Homo sapiens: one gene and its partners. The main gene of each other region encodes a partner of the protein of the gene in region 2 in a complex. Each region holds a gene or a part of one and is shown on either strand. Other genes may lie near its edges.

The links. Proteins that work in one complex are often made in the same cells at the same time.
Region 1: VAMP7 (region 2) and STX4 share a complex: the UniProt entries of both Homo sapiens proteins name them as parts of the SNARE complex.
Region 3: VAMP7 (region 2) and STX18 share a complex: the UniProt entries of both Homo sapiens proteins name them as parts of the SNARE complex.

The regions. Positions count from the first base shown.
Region 1 is NC_000016.10:31,036,526-31,040,664, reverse strand, and holds the end of STX4 (syntaxin-4), read right to left. Parts: intron 2,740-4,139; coding exon 2,631-2,739; intron 2,552-2,630; coding exon 2,475-2,551; exon of another isoform or gene 2,472-2,474; intron 2,156-2,471; coding exon 2,018-2,155; intron 1,125-2,017; coding exon 1,014-1,124; intron 943-1,013; coding exon 862-942; 3' UTR 847-861; intron 754-846; 3' UTR 501-753; downstream 1-500. UniProt on the Homo sapiens protein: Plasma membrane t-SNARE that mediates docking of transport vesicles. Necessary for the translocation of SLC2A4 from intracellular vesicles to the plasma membrane.
Region 2 is NC_000023.11:155,877,156-155,884,369, reverse strand, and holds the start of VAMP7 (vesicle-associated membrane protein 7), read right to left. Parts: upstream 3,026-7,214; 5' UTR 2,922-3,025; intron 1-2,921. UniProt on the Homo sapiens protein: Involved in the targeting and/or fusion of transport vesicles to their target membrane during transport of proteins from the early endosome to the lysosome. Required for heterotypic fusion of late endosomes with lysosomes and homotypic lysosomal fusion.
Region 3 is NC_000004.12:4,539,049-4,546,033, forward strand, and holds the start of STX18 (syntaxin-18), read right to left. Parts: upstream 3,001-6,985; 5' UTR 2,917-3,000; coding exon 2,749-2,916; intron 1-2,748. UniProt on the Homo sapiens protein: Syntaxin that may be involved in targeting and fusion of Golgi-derived retrograde transport vesicles with the ER.

The sequences.
Region 1 (4,139 bases), on a different chromosome or scaffold from region 2:
TCACAGGGCCCGGCCTCCTGTGCTTTCTGACTGGCAACCTCTTCCCCAGCTTAACATCCCACTCCAATGTCATCCCTGCTGAAACCAGACCATCCCTATCCACTGCATCCAAAGTGACAGCCTCAATTAGGCATTTTTTCATGGTGCCTCTTCCTCTGGGCCACAAGAAGGCCCACTGATGCCACCCAAACCCCCATCTCACCTGCGTCCCAGCCTGGCCTGGTCAGCCTCATCATTTCCAAGACAGATACTCACAGTGGTCCTTTCCCGGGGACAGTACTGAGCCAGGAGCTAGATGCCGGTGTTACCCCTCCCTGCCCACCCATTCCTATGGGGGTGCAGAAAGGCAGAACCAGCCTGCTGTGGGCACAGCACCCCTGGCAGTTTGACCTGAGCAGCCAGGGCCAGACCTGGCCCTGGGGACGTCCAGGAGGTAAGGAGGTTGGATGCCCGGAAGCCTTGGGCCAGCCCTTCCAGGAACACACGTGCACAGGGCTTTCTATGCTCTTTTTTTGTTTTTTAATTTTTTACAAAACCGTGTGTCCCGGCCAATCAGGACAGTGCAGGCCTCCCCCAGGCATTGAGGCCTGAAGGAGGAGGCCATCATGAATGAGCAGCTGCCAACCCCAGAAGAACTGTCTGCCCTTCTGCATAGGGGCCAGTGTGAGGAAGGGGTCCGACTGGAGGCTCTGCCCTGCCCCCCAGGCTGCTGGGAGAGAAGGCCAGGCCCTGGGTTCCTGGTGCTCCTAGTGCCTGTAAGGAAAGGAGGGAGAACAGGGTCTGAGGGAGGAGGGAGGGCTGGGGCCAGGGCTGGGGCAGGCCAGGGGGCAGCCCACAACATCTCACCAACAATGTGCGACATTATCCAACCACTGTGACGCCAATGATGACTGCTAGGAGGACGACGGTGATGGACACACAGATGGCAATCAAGACTTTCTTCTGTGGGAGAGGAGGGGGTCAGGGAAGTCACACAGGGTGCCTGGGGCAGTGGCCGGGCCTGGGAGGCTCACCTTCCTCGCCTTCTTCTGGTTCTCCAGGGCCGTCTTGACGTGCTCCTGCCCACGTTCCACGTAGTCCGCTGAGCTCAGGATGTTCTTCTCAATCCGATTGATCATCTCCCCCTGCTCAGAGGATGGGGTGGTTCAGGGAGGTAAGGATGCCTTTGCCCACCCCACCCCAGATGACTGAAGAACATTCCTGGCAGGAAAAAAAAATTGCACTAACAAAGACAAGGGCAAGACTTGATCTGACAAAAGTTCAGACTCCTTGGGGATGGCTTCCAGGCCCCTTCTATCATGTAGTCCCTTGTCCCCTGCTCACTTATCCCATACAACCTCTATCTGCAGTGGTAGCTTGGAGCTAAGGGCCTCAAATGGCTCATACCTTTCACAGATGGTGAACTGTGCCTTCACAAATCTGTCTGAATTTACCCATTCTTCCAGGCCTATCTACAGCTGCTGCAAAGCCCTCCCTATCCCTGCCTCCTCCTGGCACCACCAGCCTCAGGTCTCAGTACTCCTACTGAATGAGATCTCTTTCCTGTAAGTCTCAGCTGCAAAAGGGCATTGGCTGTAGCATGACTGAGGCCAGCTCCTCCAGGACAGGGCTGGAAGCTCAACTCAACTCACAACCAGGGCCAGGGGAACGCCGCCCCCACCCCAGCCTTGTACAGATGTTAGGAGGCAGCCCCTCTAGGGCAACTCTGACTGGACCTCTGAGAGGTATAAGGGTGGATGCTGTTAGTGGAGGGGGAGTGAGGGCTGGGGCCAGACCTGGGCAGGCTCAAGTTTTGGAGAGGGGGCAGGGTGCTATGCAGAAGGGAGTGGGCATCTGTGTAGCAGCAGAGGCAGGTGCCATTCTCGGGGTACAGCTAAGGATAGGAATAAGCACCAATCTGGGGGCATGGCCAAACCTGGAAGACACAAAAGCCTCAGGGAGAGAATCTAAGGGTGGCGGGAGGCTGGCAGTTTGGACTGAGCCTGGTCTCACGTCTGGGGCTGCGCGGGGCACCCACCTGCATCTCCACTTCGGTAGCCAGAAAAGTGAATATGTCGTGCAGCTCACGAATACTGCGTTCAAGCTGCTGGATCTCACTGTGCCGGGCCGAGATCTCATTTAAGGCCTGTCGAGTCACCTGCGTGTCCTTCAGGATCTGGGGGGTGGACAGGAGTGGGGCAACTGTTCACAGGGAGACCGACAGCAGGTCAGAAACTCCTGTTGAGCTTCTGGGGAGCCCTCAGCCTGGAATCTGATGGGTGACTCCAGGCAGGCTAATTAATTCCCTTAGAGGCCTCAGGGTGCCCTTAATCAGAAAGGGCCACAGCAAGCGGGGTGCAGTGGCTTGCACCTATAGTCCCAGCTACTCGGGAGGCTGAGGCAGGAGGATCACCTGAGCCCAGGAGGTCGAGAAACGGACAGGACTCAGAGGGGATGGGAGGCACAGCAGAGAGGGGCTGGCTGTGGCCACTCACATTGGACACAAACACCTCGCTTTGCCCACTGTCCAGCATCTGCTCCAACTCCTCATCAGACACCATCCCAGCATTGGCTGTGAAGGAAAAGGCCAGGCTCAGGGTTGGGTTGGGATTACCTGCCCCTGCGGGCCAGGCTGGGCATGCACAACTCACTGATCTTCAGCTGCCTCCGAATCCGCTCCACGTTCTTCTCCCGGTATTCGGACTGCATTGAATTGCACTTGTTGATGAGCTCCACGAATTGCTGGGACAGGACCCCATGCTAAAGATGAAGAATATAGGCTGAGTGCCCCTGGGAGGATCCCTGCCCGGTCGGTGCCTCGGCAACCCCATAGTACAGTGAGCAAATAGCATGAGCTCTTATGCGGGATCTGCCACCTTAACCACCTTGTGATGACCTTGACAGGCTCCCCCATTTCTCTTAGACTAAAAGCCAAAGCCCTTATCAGGCCTATGTGGTCCTCCATGATCTTTTTTATTTATTTATTTATTTATTTATTTATTTATTTATTTATTATTTGTTTTTTGAGACAGAGTTTCACTCTTGTTGCCCAGGCTGGAGTGCAGTGGCACAATCTCGGCTCACTGCAACCTTGGCCTCCCGGGTTCAAGCAATTCTCTTGCCTCAGCCTCCCGAGTAGCTGGGACTACAGGCACGCGCCACCACGCACGGCTAATTTTTGTATTTTTAGTAGAGATGGGGTTTCACCATGTTGGCCAGGATGGTCTTGATCTCTTGACCTTGTGATCCACCTGCCTCGGCCTCCATTACAGGCGTGAGCCACTGCACCTGGCCTATTTTTATTTTTAATAGAGACAGGGTTGGCCGGGCACGGTGGCTCATGCCTGTGATCCCAGCACTTTGGGAGGCTGAGGCAGGTGGATCACCTGAGGTCAGGAGGTCAAGACCAGCCTGGCCAACGTGGTGAAACCCCATCTCTACTAAAAGTACAGAAATTAGCTTGGTGCAGTGGTGGGCGCCTGTAGTCCCAGCTACTTGGGAGGCTGAAGCAAGAGAATGGCTTGAACCCAGGAGGCGGAGGTTGCAGTGAGCAGAGATGGCACCACTGTACTCCAGCCTGGGCAACAGAGTGAGACCCTGTCTCAAAGGAAAAAAAAAAAAGGGGGGGGGGTCTCACTATATTGCCCAGGCTGGTCTCAAACTCCTGGGCTCAACCAATCCTCCCACCTCAGCCTCCAAAGTGCTGGGATTACAGGCGTGAGCCACGGTGCCTGGCTAGCCCTCTATGATCTCTCCTTCTCCCATGACCTCTCTGATCTTACTTCCTCTTACTGTTCCCTTCCTCTGCCCATCCACACTGGTCTCCTTACCCCTCCCTAGACAAAGCACACTCTCAGCTTAAGCCTTTGCATTCACTTTTCCTTCTACCTAGAATGCTCATTCCCAGCAAACACCTTTAAGTCTCTTGTTCAGATGTTACCTTCTGAATGAAGCTTCCTCCACCTGCTTTCAACTGCAACTCTACCTCCTCCAGCATGCTTAGTCCCTCTTCCCCTGCTCTTTTTTCCTTAATGCTTATTATGTTCTAAATAATTCACTTATTTATTATGGTGATTGTCTACACCAGAAGGGAAGTTCCATGAGGACAGGGATCACTGGTTCACTGCTGTATCCTAAACAGTTCCAAAAAGGTCTGGCAC
Region 2 (7,214 bases):
GGATCACCCAAGGTCAGGAGTTCGAGACCAGCCTGACCAACATGGAGAAACCCCGTTTCTACTAAAAATACAAAATTAGCCAGGCGTGGTGGCGCACGCCTGTAATTCCAGCTACTTGGGAGGCTGAGGCAGGAGAATCGCTTGAACCCGGGAAGTGGAGGCTGAGGTGAGCCAAGATCATGCCATTGCACTCCAGCCTGGGTAACAAGAGCAAAACTCTGTCTCAAAAGAAAAAAAAAAGTTTAATTTTAATACTTGAGGCTTTTATCTGACATCCTGAAAATGACAATGTGGCAGAATAACATTACCACTTAAATTACCTCAGGCTGAGAAAGTAATACTCAAAGATGTGTTTCTTGGCCGGGCATGGTGGCTCATGCCTGTAATCCCAGCACTTTGGGAGGCCGAGGTGGATCACCTGAGGTCAGGAGTTCGAGACCAGCCTGACCAAAAATGGTGAAATCCCGTCTCTACTAAAAATACAAAAAAAAATTAGTCAGGCGTGGTGGTGTGCACCTGTAATCCCAGCTACTCAGGGGGCTGAGGCAGGAGAATTGCTTGAACCTGGGAGGCGGAGGTTGCAGTGAGCCGAGATCGCGCCGCTGCACTCCAGCCCAGGCAACGGAGTGAGACTCCGTCTCAAAAAAAAAAAAAAAAAAAAAGATGTGTTTCTACCAAGTAGAAACCAAATGATACCAAAACATGCTGTGTGAACAGAGGTTATACAACTGTTCAAATAAAGTAGTAGAATTAACTCATTACATAGCACATGGTGATAGTCAATGCAAAATCTTTAAAAAGTATTCTGTATCATTATATTATTGCAGTAGGATCTATTACATTAATTCTTGCAAGAGTTCATTGGCAGAATGTTTCATAGGAAATATAAAAAGGAAATTAATTTTTTTCCACCCCTGTATCATGAGCAGATTATTAAATTAACTGGCCCACCAAATTAATGGAGGGAGGTACACAAGGTGCTTGGGAAGAGATGGGAGATCCTTTTAGGAGGGATGGATGGAAGAAGAGAAGGCACTGAGAGCAAGGTAAAGAAGGTACATAAGCTAGCCTGATAAGATGGAATGGTCCACCTTTGGTGAATGAGAAGGTTGAGGAATACGGCTGATGGCCTTACATAAAGAAGGCCTTGTATAAATCATGTCATTTAAATTTGATCAAATAGGGAGTCTATTTCAGTTCAACACGTATATACTGGTGGGTTACTATATGACAGTCAAAGTAGACACTAGAGGTATAAAGTTAAGGAAGAAGGGACTCCTATACTTGAGGGAGCCATAGAACAATGGGGAAGACAGATATAAATAAATGCAATAAAGTATAATAAGTGAATAATCTAAGAATGTCCGCAATTGCTCAGGAAATGTCTTAATGTTTTGTGATGATCTCACCTCGGATGAAGAACAGGAATGCAGGTGTCAGCCTATGCCTTAGAAATTTCCTCAGTATACTGTTAGGATTATTTCTCCTTGGAAGAGAGGTCAAAGTGTCTATTTTACCCTATTTTCCCAGTGCTCAGCACAGTGCCTACCATCTAATATTCCCTCAAATATCTGTTGAATAAATGAGTGAACATTGAGCATATTTTGGTTTTAAAATATACTATAAATGGTAGATAACTTTATATTCAGAAGGACCTGGTAAGAATAATATTTTCACAACCAAACTATCTTTCTAAGTAAGATAAAGCAGTTGAGCTAATAGTAATCCAATCCCCCACTCTTCTCTCTGGGTCTTAGAAGGAATAAACCAACTACAGATAAACCATGAATTCTGATGCAATAACCTTGGAGGAGATAGAAGAATGAAGAATAAACACTGCTTAGACAGGGGAAAAGAAGAGGTGTTTACGAAAAGTCATGTTACAGATCAAGATTATTCCTGTTGGTATTACAACTATTCTTTCTGGACGATGCCCTGACCTCTGACTTTCTTAGGATAGGATCCCATCCTTTCAAGTCAACCACCTGTTTTATTTTGCATTAACCAATATATAACATAATCCTGATTATTCCTGTTTTCCCCTCTAGACACAAACATGTAAGTTCCTGAGAGTAGCAACCTCCTAAGTCTTGTTTACAGCTGTATCCCCTGCACTTAAAAGAGTGTCAAGCATATACCAGCCGTTCAATAAATATTTGTTAAATGTATGAATGGATCTGCTCTCAGCCACAGGTATTCAAAGGGAATTAATATCCTAAACATGACTGTATCCTCTGGGATCAAGGGAGGGATAATGGAGATACAGGTAGTTGAAAGCAATTAATGAGGCCAAATGAAGACAGTTGGTTGGTTGTGAGAGTTATGGGAGACGGAGATGTAAAGCATTTACCAAAGTACGCAGTCAGAATTTGATAAACATTGGCCATTAATAAAAACACCAAACAGGTCTGAAGCTGAGGAAACGGGTCTAGGCAGAAATACAGTCCCTGAACAGAGGAAGAAGGGGACTGTCAATACTGAGCAGTGGAGGAAGGGCGAATAAGGGGCTAGGAACCCACGAAGGAGCATAAACAGCCAGAAGTAGAAGGTGAAGCAGAAAGTGACGTCATCGAACAAGGACGTAGAGAGTTTTTAGAAGACTCTGGCGATCTCAAGAGATTTAAATGCTACAGAAAGGTCTTGTAGAATACAAACTGAGAGAAAGTTAACATTTTTTCCCTCCTGTAATGACAGCTTAAGTGACGCATTCTGACACTCTTTAACTCGAGGCCTTTCCAGTGGCATAAGACGCACCTCGCCAAAACTGGTCCTGCCCGACAACTGGAACTGTCGACACCAGAGAAGCCCAAGTCACCCCTGCACTGCCTCCTCGCTCCACCCCAGCACCTTTCCATCGACACCTCCGCCCTCCCTCCGCAGTTCTCTCCCCGCCTCCCGCAGGCGCACCCCACTCCATTTACCTGTCCGGGCACCCTCTGAGGGCGCGCGGGCTCGGGACGGAGGGACGCGGGTCAGTGCAGGGTCGCCAACTGCCCGCTCCCAGAGGAGGCTGGGACCGGACGCCGCTGACTTCCGCATGAAGCGCCCCGTCTACGCGTGGCCTCTTGGGAGTGGGAGCGCTCCTCCAATGGCAGCAGGCGACACGGCTAGGCCTGCTGCGTTCCCAGCCCCCCGCACTTCCCAGGAGCCGTACTGCATTCTGGGAGTAGTAGTTCCGGTTGGAGTATCACTGAGTGTTTCACGTTCGTTCGACAGCTCTTGTGGTAAACAGCGTCAAATGCCGTATAGGGATCCAGGAAAATGAGAGGATGCAGGCTAGATAAAGAATCTACCAGCAATGAGTAGGCGGCATAAATGAAGAGCCAAGCTTGCCCCGTCTCTCCTGCTTAGTCTCAGTAGGCAGCGTCGCCCGTTTCCTCACAGACAAAATAGAATTCATCTGACAGGAACTGCCTCTACTTTCGCCATGAAATTTTCTAATTTTCTTGTACCCCTCACCAATCCTTTCTCCTATTCTTTTTGCAATAATAATAATAATAAACGACTACTCTCCTTTGATCTAAGCCAGCCCTCTTCCATCTCTATTCCCTGTTGCCGACTCAGAGTCAAGCTCCTCTGATGAACCCTTCCGTTGCATGACTCCTCAACGGCTCTCTGCTAACTCGCTCTTTACTATCAGGACTTAAAGGCTGTCAAAATTTCTCTCATCTAAAACATTCCAAAGTCACCTTTCTTAACCCCATACCCCAAGCCCCCTCATCAAACACAGACCAAACACAGATAAGCTAGTGGTCTTTCTCTCACCTCTCCTTTACAGACAGAATTCTCAACAGTGTTGCTAAAACAAATAGATACTTTTAAGCCATTACCGTATTTCAACTCTGCAGGACTTTAGTTTCATTATTCCTTTTTTTTTTTTTTTTTTTTTTGAGATGGAATCTCACTCTGTTGCCCAGGCTGGAGTGCAGTGCCGCGATCTCGGCTCACTGCCAGCTCCGTCTCCCGGGTTCAAGCGATTCTCCTGCCTCAGTCTCCCAAGCAGTTGGGACTACAGGCGTGCGCCACCACAGGCAGCTAATTTTTTATATTTTTAGTAGAGACGGGGTTTCACCATATTGGCCAGGCTGGTCTCGAACTCCTGACCTCATAATCGACCCGCCTCAGTCTTCCAAAGTATTGGGATTACAGGCATGAGCCACCACACACGGCCCTTATTCCCTCCTTTTTGAACCCCTTTATTCTGTTAGCTCTTTCCAAGAACTACACCCTGCTGGTTCTCCTCCCACCTCTGTGGCAGCTCTTCATTTTCTTTAGAAATGTTCACATTCCATAGGGTTCTGCCCTATGCCATCTTCTCTTCTTACTCTTCACACTCTTCCTGGTGATCTTAATCATTCCCCTTGCTTTATCTCCCCTTTGCAAAGGTTCGCATTTGGTATTAATATCAACTTAATTATATTGTATTCAATATCTATTCTTTAAGAGGCAGCATAGTATCCTAGAAAAAGAATGAGTTTTAGAGTCAGAGAGATCTGAGTTACTAAGCTGTGTGAACTCTAAATATCGCCTCTCTTTAGAGCTTTCAGGACTCTAGCAAAGCCCCCTCTTACTCCATATTCTCTCCTAAAGTAATCTTATTTATACCCTAAAATTTGTAGTGTAATTATCTGGCCATGTAAGATGTGCCTGCTTCCCGTTTGCCTTCCACCATGATTGTAAGTTTCCTGAGGCCTCCCTGTCAGAGGTATGTGAACCAGAACAACTTTGTCTTGAATAGGAGCTGGGTAAAATAAGGCTGAGACCTACTGGGCTGCATTCCCAGACAGTTAAGGCATTCTAAGTCGCAGGATGAGATAGGAGGTCAGCACAAGATACAGGTCATAAAGATCTTGCTGATAAAACAGACTGCAGTAAAGAAGCCAGCCAAAACCCACCAAAACCAAGATGATGACGAGAGTGAATGTACACAGGCTAATTTCCTTAATATGGTTATTTTCAGCATCTAGGGTTACCATAGTGAATGGTGGGGCACTGATAAACATGGCTATCTAGACATTTAGAAATAGCTCCTGTATAAGTGTTCATCCTAGGGCTGGCAAATGCAGACCCTAGAAGGGCAGGCCAGGAAAGCCCTATATTCCAGTGGGACAGCAGAAATATTTGCCTCCTGGCAATTGGATCAAGATTGGATCCTGGCAATTGGATCAGGGTTTGCCTCCTGGCAATTGGATCAGGAATCTGATCCAGTTCTCCCTTGATGGGACTGAAGTAAGTTACTAAATCTTGGAGCCTTAGTTTTCTCCCCTGTAAAATGGAGATAATTCTATCCACCAAGCCCTAGCACGATCAGATGAGATAACAGAGATGAAAGCAGTCTGTTGACTTTTAAAGGGCTGCCAGATGTTCTAAATTATTACTATGCTAGGCAGTGCTGCAAATATGCATCTTAGATTTAGCAGTTTGTCCTCTATCCTACTTATTTTTATTTTATTATAAGTTCTGGGGTACATGTGTAGGATGTGCAGGTTTGTTATACAGGTAAATGTGTGCCATGGTAATTTGCTGCACCTATCAACCCATCACCTAGGTATTAAAGCCCAGCATGCATTAGCTATTTTTCCTGATGCTCTCCCTCCCCCAACCCCACCCCGACAGGCCCCAGTGTGTGTTGTTCTCTTCCCTGTGTCTATGTGTTCGCATTGTTTAGCTCCCACTTACAAGTGAGAACATGCAGTGTTTGATTTTCTGTTCCTGCATTAGTTTGGTGAGGATAATGGCTTCCAGCTTCACGTGATGTGTTATTTTGTGGTTTACAAACAAATCTAGTGATTCTGTTGCTTTTGAATCAAAATCACATGATTGCAGTGTATCACTGATTGCCATTGCTGTTCATGCTTCTTTTCTCCTGGATGTTTGGACTTAGGCAACTTTTCTTCCTCTTATACTATGCTGAAAACAGACCTACATCAAGGATACCTGTTCTCTTTTGAAATTCACAATCCGTAGAGGGAACTAACACATTATCAATAGCTATAAAATAATTGACATTTGAGTATGGGACATATTTTTGGTTGCAGCTTATTCCAGTTAGAGTCGTCACATATCTTCCTTTGTTCATCTGAGCCATCTGTGGTTCTAACATGAACTTTTGCAAAGCAGTTGTGAATAATTATTTTTTTTCTTTTTTTCTTTTTTTTTGAGATGAGGTCTGGCTCTGTTGCCTAGGCTGGAGTGCAGTGGCACGATCACAGCTCACTGCAGCCTTGAACTCCTGGGCTCAAGCGATCTTCCCGCCTCAACCTTCCTAGTAGCTGGGACTACAGGCACGTGCCACCATCCCCAGCTAATTACTTCCGAGGTGTCTGTGTTCCACATAGTAGTAAGATTTCTCATTACATCAAGAACATGCCATTTCTTTATATCTGTGATAGGAACACTGCTTCTCATAATGTGTCAAGCACTTCCAGCATCCACATTTTGATTATTTATTATATCTCAGTTTAATAGCTGCTTGTAGCCATGGTGCTGGCAGGCAAAAAATTTTTTTAAAGGCCACAGATGTGTTTGATTTAAACCTTCAATGACTATGTGCAGCTATTGGTAATAGAGTGTTCACGTTCTGGCAAGCCGTTTTTCTCTCTAATTATAGGAGCCATTCCCTAAACAACCTGCTAGATATCAGTGCATTTTTGTTAATTTTATATGCACACAGTTAAATTGTGTATATAAAGGAAATTTTAAATTCTTCATATAGATTATTTAAATTTCTTGTTCTTCTCAGCACTCTGGCAAAAGAAGGCTGATGACCCAACTCTCTTTATATATTTATTTTTGTCCAAAGAAATATTTTTCTGTCAGAGAATGCCTCTGGTTTGGTTGCAGATTACAGAGGTGTAGTAGATGTGCCCCATGGGTATCTCTATTCAGATTTCACTTCCTACTTTCAAGATCTTCAGCAAACAGAGTTATTGTAGATTCTTCACCTTTTAGGTGAAGTGACATGATATTGTGATAATGCCAAAAGCATTGTCACTTGCCATAAGACTTGACATCAACTCCCATCTGGAGAGCAGTTTCATTAGCCTTTTCTAAAAACTCGTGAGCATGCAGATATAGAAATACCTGCTCTGATGTGGCAAAGTTATTCAAGTGTTTTATTTACTAAGTTAGCATGTTTTGCTCCTCTCATTCTGTTACCAATTTCACCTCCCCTGGCTGCTTGTCTTTTTATCTTTTCCTAATATTTAAGAAAC
Region 3 (6,985 bases), on a different chromosome or scaffold from region 2:
TTGGAAGGTAGGGACTGCAATAAAATTGCAGTTTCAATGCAATTTTATTCAACTTAATATAACCTCTACAACAATTCAGTGAGATGGAAATCTGGCATCAGGCATATATTTGAGGAATGGAATGGAAGAATAGAAATTGAACCAGATAAAACGCATCCTAGAAGTAACAGCAAATGCTTCAAGGAAGGCACTTACCAAAAGGCATACTATAACTTATTACATTTCATTAAGTCTGACAACCAGGGCTAAACCTGAATTAGAATATGTGCTTCTGGTATTTACCAGACTTTTCTCTATAAGGAATCCAGGCCAAACAAAATAACAGCCAAACTTTTGACATCTAATTGTAGTAAAAGCACAGGACATCCATCACTAGCTCTTCTAGTTAAACTTCCCACAAGAGAAGATGGGGAGTGGGGAACGGTTGCAAGAACAGGAGATAATACACAAAGCAATGACAACATAAAATCAAAATTGCTTAAAAGAATGTATGTTTCCTCTACGTCAGGGGGACAGTGTCCCTGAACAACACAGCCCATGAACTCACTTAAGGTGATGTGACACCTACTCACATCAATACATAGCAGAACTGCAAGTTGCATTGTCATGCGGTCCAACCCTGTGACATATGCACAAAGCTTTTCTCAAACATCTCTGAAAAGCAGTCATCACTCTGTTTAATCACTTCCAGTGACAGGGAACTCAGCACCCTATGGGACTGTTACTGTCCCTGAGGCCCATTAACTCAAAACTCAAACACATTTTCACCACTCAGGGAGAGGTGGAAGTGATCACAGGGCTCTCCAAAGGGCTTGCCAACCCAACTGTGCCTCCTGTCTCTACCATTCCCAAATCCCCCCTTTCCCTGAGCAGGACTCAAAATTAGCACAGTGTTAATAAATCAGTGGTTTCAGAGTTAGAAGGGACCCTTAAAAAGCCAATACTGTGATATTCATACCACAGTTCTACAAAAGGAATCTCAAGAAGTGCTTGGGCCAAACTGGGAGGGAGAGTGTCCTGTTTCTCTTCCTCTTATTTCAACCTAGGAAGCTCCCACTTTAATTTGTTACATATAGAGGACCAAGGTAGTTTTTTAAAAGGAGGAGGAGAAAAAAAGGACCATTTACAGGTAAATAAACTGAGGTCTTAAAACTTGCTTAATGAAATCATATAGCTAATAGTTGCAGGGTTCAGACAACAACCTCGTCTCTTGGCTCCTTCTCTGGTGCTTTCTCTACCAGATAACATCTGACCATCTACAGGGCAAAATTCAAACTCTGCAATGATACACAAAGCCCTTTAAGATCTCCGCGTCCAATTTTTATGAGAGTCCCACATTCCAGTCTCACTCAAATGTTTATTGAACCAACTTATGTCAGACTGTTACCTACCTCCACAGCTTAGCGCATACTATTCTCTTAGCCTGAGATGTCCTTCTGCACTGGAACCAACTAATCCTCTTTCAAGATTTGTTTTAGGCATCATCGCCTCTATAAAGCCTTTTCTGGTCCTCAGGTAGAACTGACCACATTCTTTTTGTGCCCTACACAACACCTGCAAGGCTTTATGGCACTTGTTTTATGTCTATGTCCGTCTACTCCACCACTGCTTTTACATCATATTACTCTAACACGAGGCTGGTCAGAAGGTAGGTGCTTCATAGACGGTCATCAATAGGGCGAGTGTATTCATCTGGTCCAATCCCCTTTCTAATGTTTAAGTATCCTCTGCTAACTGTCATTAATGCATGCATGACTACATTCATTCAAAAATATCTGAGTGTCTATACAGTGCCAAGTGTATGCCAAGCAGAGAAGGATTTACTGTGAAATTAATGAGGCTTAAGCTTTAGGGTCCCTCTCTTCAATCTTCCAAAGCTCTGAATCTTTCTTGGTGATTTTTATTTCTTGAAGAGGGCAGACAGAACTATATAAGCTGTAGGCCCCACAAAACCTAGATACCTCCTTGGTGTCACGAACACAAAAGGGAACAAGACAAACAGCTCTCCCCTTATGGAGTTTTCTGTTTAATGGGAAAGACAGCCATTTGTTCATTCACTCATTCAACAAACATTTACTAAGCAATGCTATGAGTCATGCATTCTGAGATGAAAACAACACTGTCCCTGCCCTTAAGGAAAAGGTTCCTGTTCCCAGGGAGATGAAGGGACACCTGCTCTGATCAGGGAACAGAAAGTAGTTGAGGTGACTGTAACACTGTGTTTGCGAAAGATTACCCTAAACCCGTCTCAAGAGGAACTGAGTCCTACTTATTGCAGAGACAAAGGGAAGAAAGAGTTCGGCTGAATACAGTTTTTAATCTCAACTAGGGGTGGGAGGCAGACAAGTAAATAGAACAGGCAAATATGGTGTGGTCAGTGCTGCAACAGGAAGCGAAGGACTGTCAGGAGGTTTCCCCTGAGTGCAAGTCTGTAGTGACGGCGAACTCATGACCTCACAAAGCCGCCCATGCACTTTCCAGATAGAGATTTCTGAGGATCTCCTTTCTTGTCCCCCAATCCCTGTCGCCGCAGGAGAAATCTGTTCCCCAATATGCGTCCCCCTTCCTCAAAATAAGGCTGTTCCTTCCCCCAAAAAGCTGTAGGGTCTCTGAGGCCAACTCTTCTGTCCCCCTTAGAGCCACCCCCTTCACACAATGCTTACGGGACGGGGTCTGGTTTGGGGCCCGGGGTCCCTGTCGCAGGACTGCCCCCTCCTCAACCCGCCGTTTCCATAGCAACCAGCTCACCACTTCGCGGGCCCGGCTGGAGAAGTCGCCCTTGGGCCGGGGGCTCCGGCGGAACAGCTCGTCCCGGCTGCCATCGACCCCGCCGCCCACCGCCACTCCCAGCGCCTTGTTCCGCGTCTTCACGGTCTTGACGCTGGCCCGGAATAGCAGCGTGATGTCCACCGCCATAGCGACCCGCACCCTCAGCCCCACACTAGGCCCGCCCACGTAAGCAGCCGGCGACCGCGGCGCGAACCCGGCCGCTGAAGGACTGGTCCTGCCCCACACGCCTCCCCCCGGCAACGGCGACGCGAGAAGAAAGGTTCCGGCCTGCGCCCTGCTACCGCGGCGGGAGGAAAAAGGTTCCGGCCTCAGCCGGCGCACCTGGCGGAGGAGGAACCTCGCGACGCGCTCTCGGGCATCGGTTTCTCCCAGCAAAGCTTGGAGGGTTTAGCTGCGCGGAGAGCTCAGCGAGCTCTTCTGTGTCTGTTTGGGGCGTGTGGGCTCCGGGAGCGTGAGGACCGGGAAGCTAGGAGGCTCCTTCCCTTCTGGCGGCTCCCTCACTGAGACCGGGCGGTTTGGTTGCGGGGGAAGTGGAGACGAGCCACCCTTGACCTTTGACTGCAAGAACTCACCTTGAGCAGGATAGAGGCACGTGGACGGTGACCCTCGGGATGCAATAAATGCTGAGACAGATCAGGTGTGCAAGGCACAGAGCTAGAGGCCAGAGGCCTTTCTTCTCCAACCTTCAGTCACCTCTTTTTAAAGTGAAGCCAGCATCCTCCTCGGGGTTTACTGTGAAAATTAAGTGAGCTGACGCGTGCTGTGTTTTGATGTTGCTTGGCTCCTAGTAAGTGGCCAATAAATGGTAGTAATCGTTAATAATGTTATTATTATAATCACTGTTATTTGTGGTAAAGGAAGAGGCTTTAGAGAAAAGGCGTCACCTGTGCAGAGATTTGAAGGATGAATAGGAAGTTTAGATGGAGACAAAGGTGAAAGAGTGGCCCTAATGCCGCTGGATTCTCTTCATCCTTCATGCATAGTTTTTAATTGTACCGTCTTGAGCCATAGCTATTAAAATTGACAACTCAATCAATGAGTTTCTTCTGCATTTTAGGTTCATGTTCTGTTTTGTGTTGTTTTTTGAGACGGGGGTCTACTATGTTGCCCAGGCTGGATTGCAGTGGCTAGTCAGAGGCGCCATCCTAGCTCACTACAGCTGGAACGCCAGGGCTCAAACGATCCTCCCGGACTCAGCCTCCTGAGTAGCTGGGACTATAGGCACGTGCAACCGTGCCTGGCCTATGGTTCAGTTTTAATTCAAAATCTCATTGATTTCTTCAAGATTTCTTTTTTCATAAAGAGGAAGCACAAGTAGAATATGTATTAAAACAGCAGTTTTAATGGTCATCAAGATAAAATTTTCACAATACTAAGATGTTATTTGCCTTTTCGCTCTGATTTTCTTATGAGTTGCATACAGTTGAGTTTGCTGGAGACTGTGATATTGCAACGGAGTAAATGCAGAACAGCTGTTTTCTATTAAGCCAGACTCCAAAAAAAGACTTTCAAAAACATCAAGTTTTTGTTTTGATTTCTCATATAGTAAATGTCGATAATGTCAATATAAACCAAAATTGTTTAGAGCCCTTAATAATTTTTAAGTGTGCAAAAGAGTTGAGACCAAAAGTTTGAGAACCACTGTGTTAAAAAAATAAAGTTTATCAGAAATAGATGTCAAGAAAGTATATATTTACCAGAAAGGAGGAAGGAAAAGATTTTTTTTTTCTTTGAGGCGGAGTCTTGCTCTGTCGCCCAGGCTGGAGCAAGCTCCGCCTCCCGGGTTCACGCCATTCTCCTGCCTCAGTCTCCCGAGTAGCTGGGACTACAGGCGCCCACCGCCACGCCTGGCTAATTCTTTTGTATTTTTAGTAGAGATGGGGTTTCACCGTGTTAGCCAGGATGGTCTCGATCTCCTGACCTCGTGATCCGCCTGCCTCAGCCTCCCAAAATGCTGGGATTACAGGCGTGAGCCACCGCGCCCGGCCAGGAAAAGATTATTTAAACCCAAACTGTAGCCACTTCTTGCAGTTTAAGGAAAATAAATTTCCATACAGCTTTCTTCCACCTACTGAGGAAAAGAGAAAGAAATTACAAAATCTCTGCCAATGATTCTATCTTGCATAAATGGCCCTTTGTTTAATCCAGACATTAATCAGTTTTTGGCCATGCAAAGTTAAGCCTGGGGTAGAGTAGAAGGAAAGAGAGATTGCCCTGCATAATAAAGTGAGGGGGATTGAATTGGGGGGAAGAAAAGAGAAGCCAGAACCCAGGGAGGGGGCCGGGAAAGTACAAAGTAGGTAACTGGGAAGGATCTTTGAGTGGGAGGGAGGCTGAACTACACCAAGCCTTCAGTGAGTGGTGCCTTGTGTAAACCGTGTGTTTGGTGCAGTTGGATATTTTGGGTAGAAGGGTAGGGACAAAGATCTAAGTTTTCTGTCTGGATTTGCAAGAGCAGAGAAGATTGTGGTGGATATAAGACCCAAGTGAGCTCAAAACATCAGGCTGTAAATCCACAAGTGACCACAAGTACATAAAATTCCTAAATAAGTCACAAAGATCTTGAGGAGGCTGCTGAACTTTCCACAGACCATGGGATATGGGGTTGTGCTTTTTACATTTTGTGTTTACTCTTTAATTTAAAAGAGCAAAGTGACTTCAGTTGACAGTTGACTAATATTAAGCCCCATAAAGCTGAGAGGGGATGTGGGTTAAAAGGATGTGCAGAAATGTTGTGAGAGTATACTACTGCAACTCCAGGGCTCAAACAATCCTCCCGGCTCAGCCTCCTGAGTATCTGGGACTATAGGCGCGTGCCACCATGCCTGGCCTGTTGGAGGTAGCACACAACTGCCCAGTTGGATGTAGTATACAAATTTTGTTTTCTTTATGCATTCAGCAAACATTGAGTGGGCCAGACACTGTTCTGAAAAATACGCAGTCGACTTTTGAACAGCACAGGCTTGAACTGCATGCGGCCACTAATACTCGGACTTCCTTCTGCCTCTGCCATCCCTAAGACAGCAAGACCCACCCCTCCTGCTCCTCAGCCTACTCGATGTGATGATGGTGAGTATGAAGACCTTTACTTTATGATGATCCACTTCCATTTAATGGATAGTAAATATATTTTCTCTTCCTATGATTTTCTTAATACCATTTTCTTTTCTCTAGCTTACTTTATTGAAAGAATACAGTATCTAATACATATGACATGCAAAATATGTGTTAACGGACTGTTTATGTTATTGATAAGGATTCTGGTCAACAGTAGGCTATTATTAGTTAAGATGTTAGGGAGTCAGAAGTTATACACAAATTTCCAACTGTGAGGGGTGGAGGAGTCATCAAGGATCAACTGTATTGGCACCCCTAAATATAGCTCACTACAGCAGCAACACCTATGCAAGGAGACTAGATGTAGGCTGCCAGTGAAAACCAACGTGTAATTTCTGGGCAGCAAATTTAAGAGCTAATGTATGATTCACGATGCTCTTTTCCCTCTGCTATGACAACCCTTAATGTTCCAATGTTCCATCAGCCTGAGTCCTTAAGTAAAGATGACATGGAGCATAGCCAACCAAGGACATTGTATTAGTCAGAGTTCTCTAGAGGGACAGAACTAATAGGATAGGTGTATATATAAAGGGGAGCTTATTAAGGAGTATTGACTCACATGATCACAAGGTGAGGTCCCACAATAGGCCATCTGCAAGCTGAGGAGCAAGGAGAGACAGTCCAAGTCCCAAAGCTGAAGAACTTGGAGTCTGATGTTCCAGGGCAGGAAGCATCCAGCACGGGAGAAAGATGTAGGCCAGAAGACTAAGCCAGTCTAGTCTTTCCATGTTCTTCTGCCTGCTTTTCTTCTGGCCATGCTGGCAGCTGATTAGATTGTACCCACCTAGATTGAGAGTGGGTCTGCCTTTCCCAGTTCACTGACTCAAACGTTAATCTCCTTTGGCAACACCCTCACAGACACACCCAGGAACAATACTTTGCATCCTTCAGTCAAGTTGACACTCAATATTAACCATCACAGACATGTACTAAGATTGAGAATTGTCCACAGATTTGTGGGTGTTTGTTAACTGCAGCATAATTAGCCTGTCCTGATTGATGACAACCCATATCTAGGTATCTACCAAAACAGGAATATTAGATGTATTCTCCACTCACCATCGTAACAGTATTATTC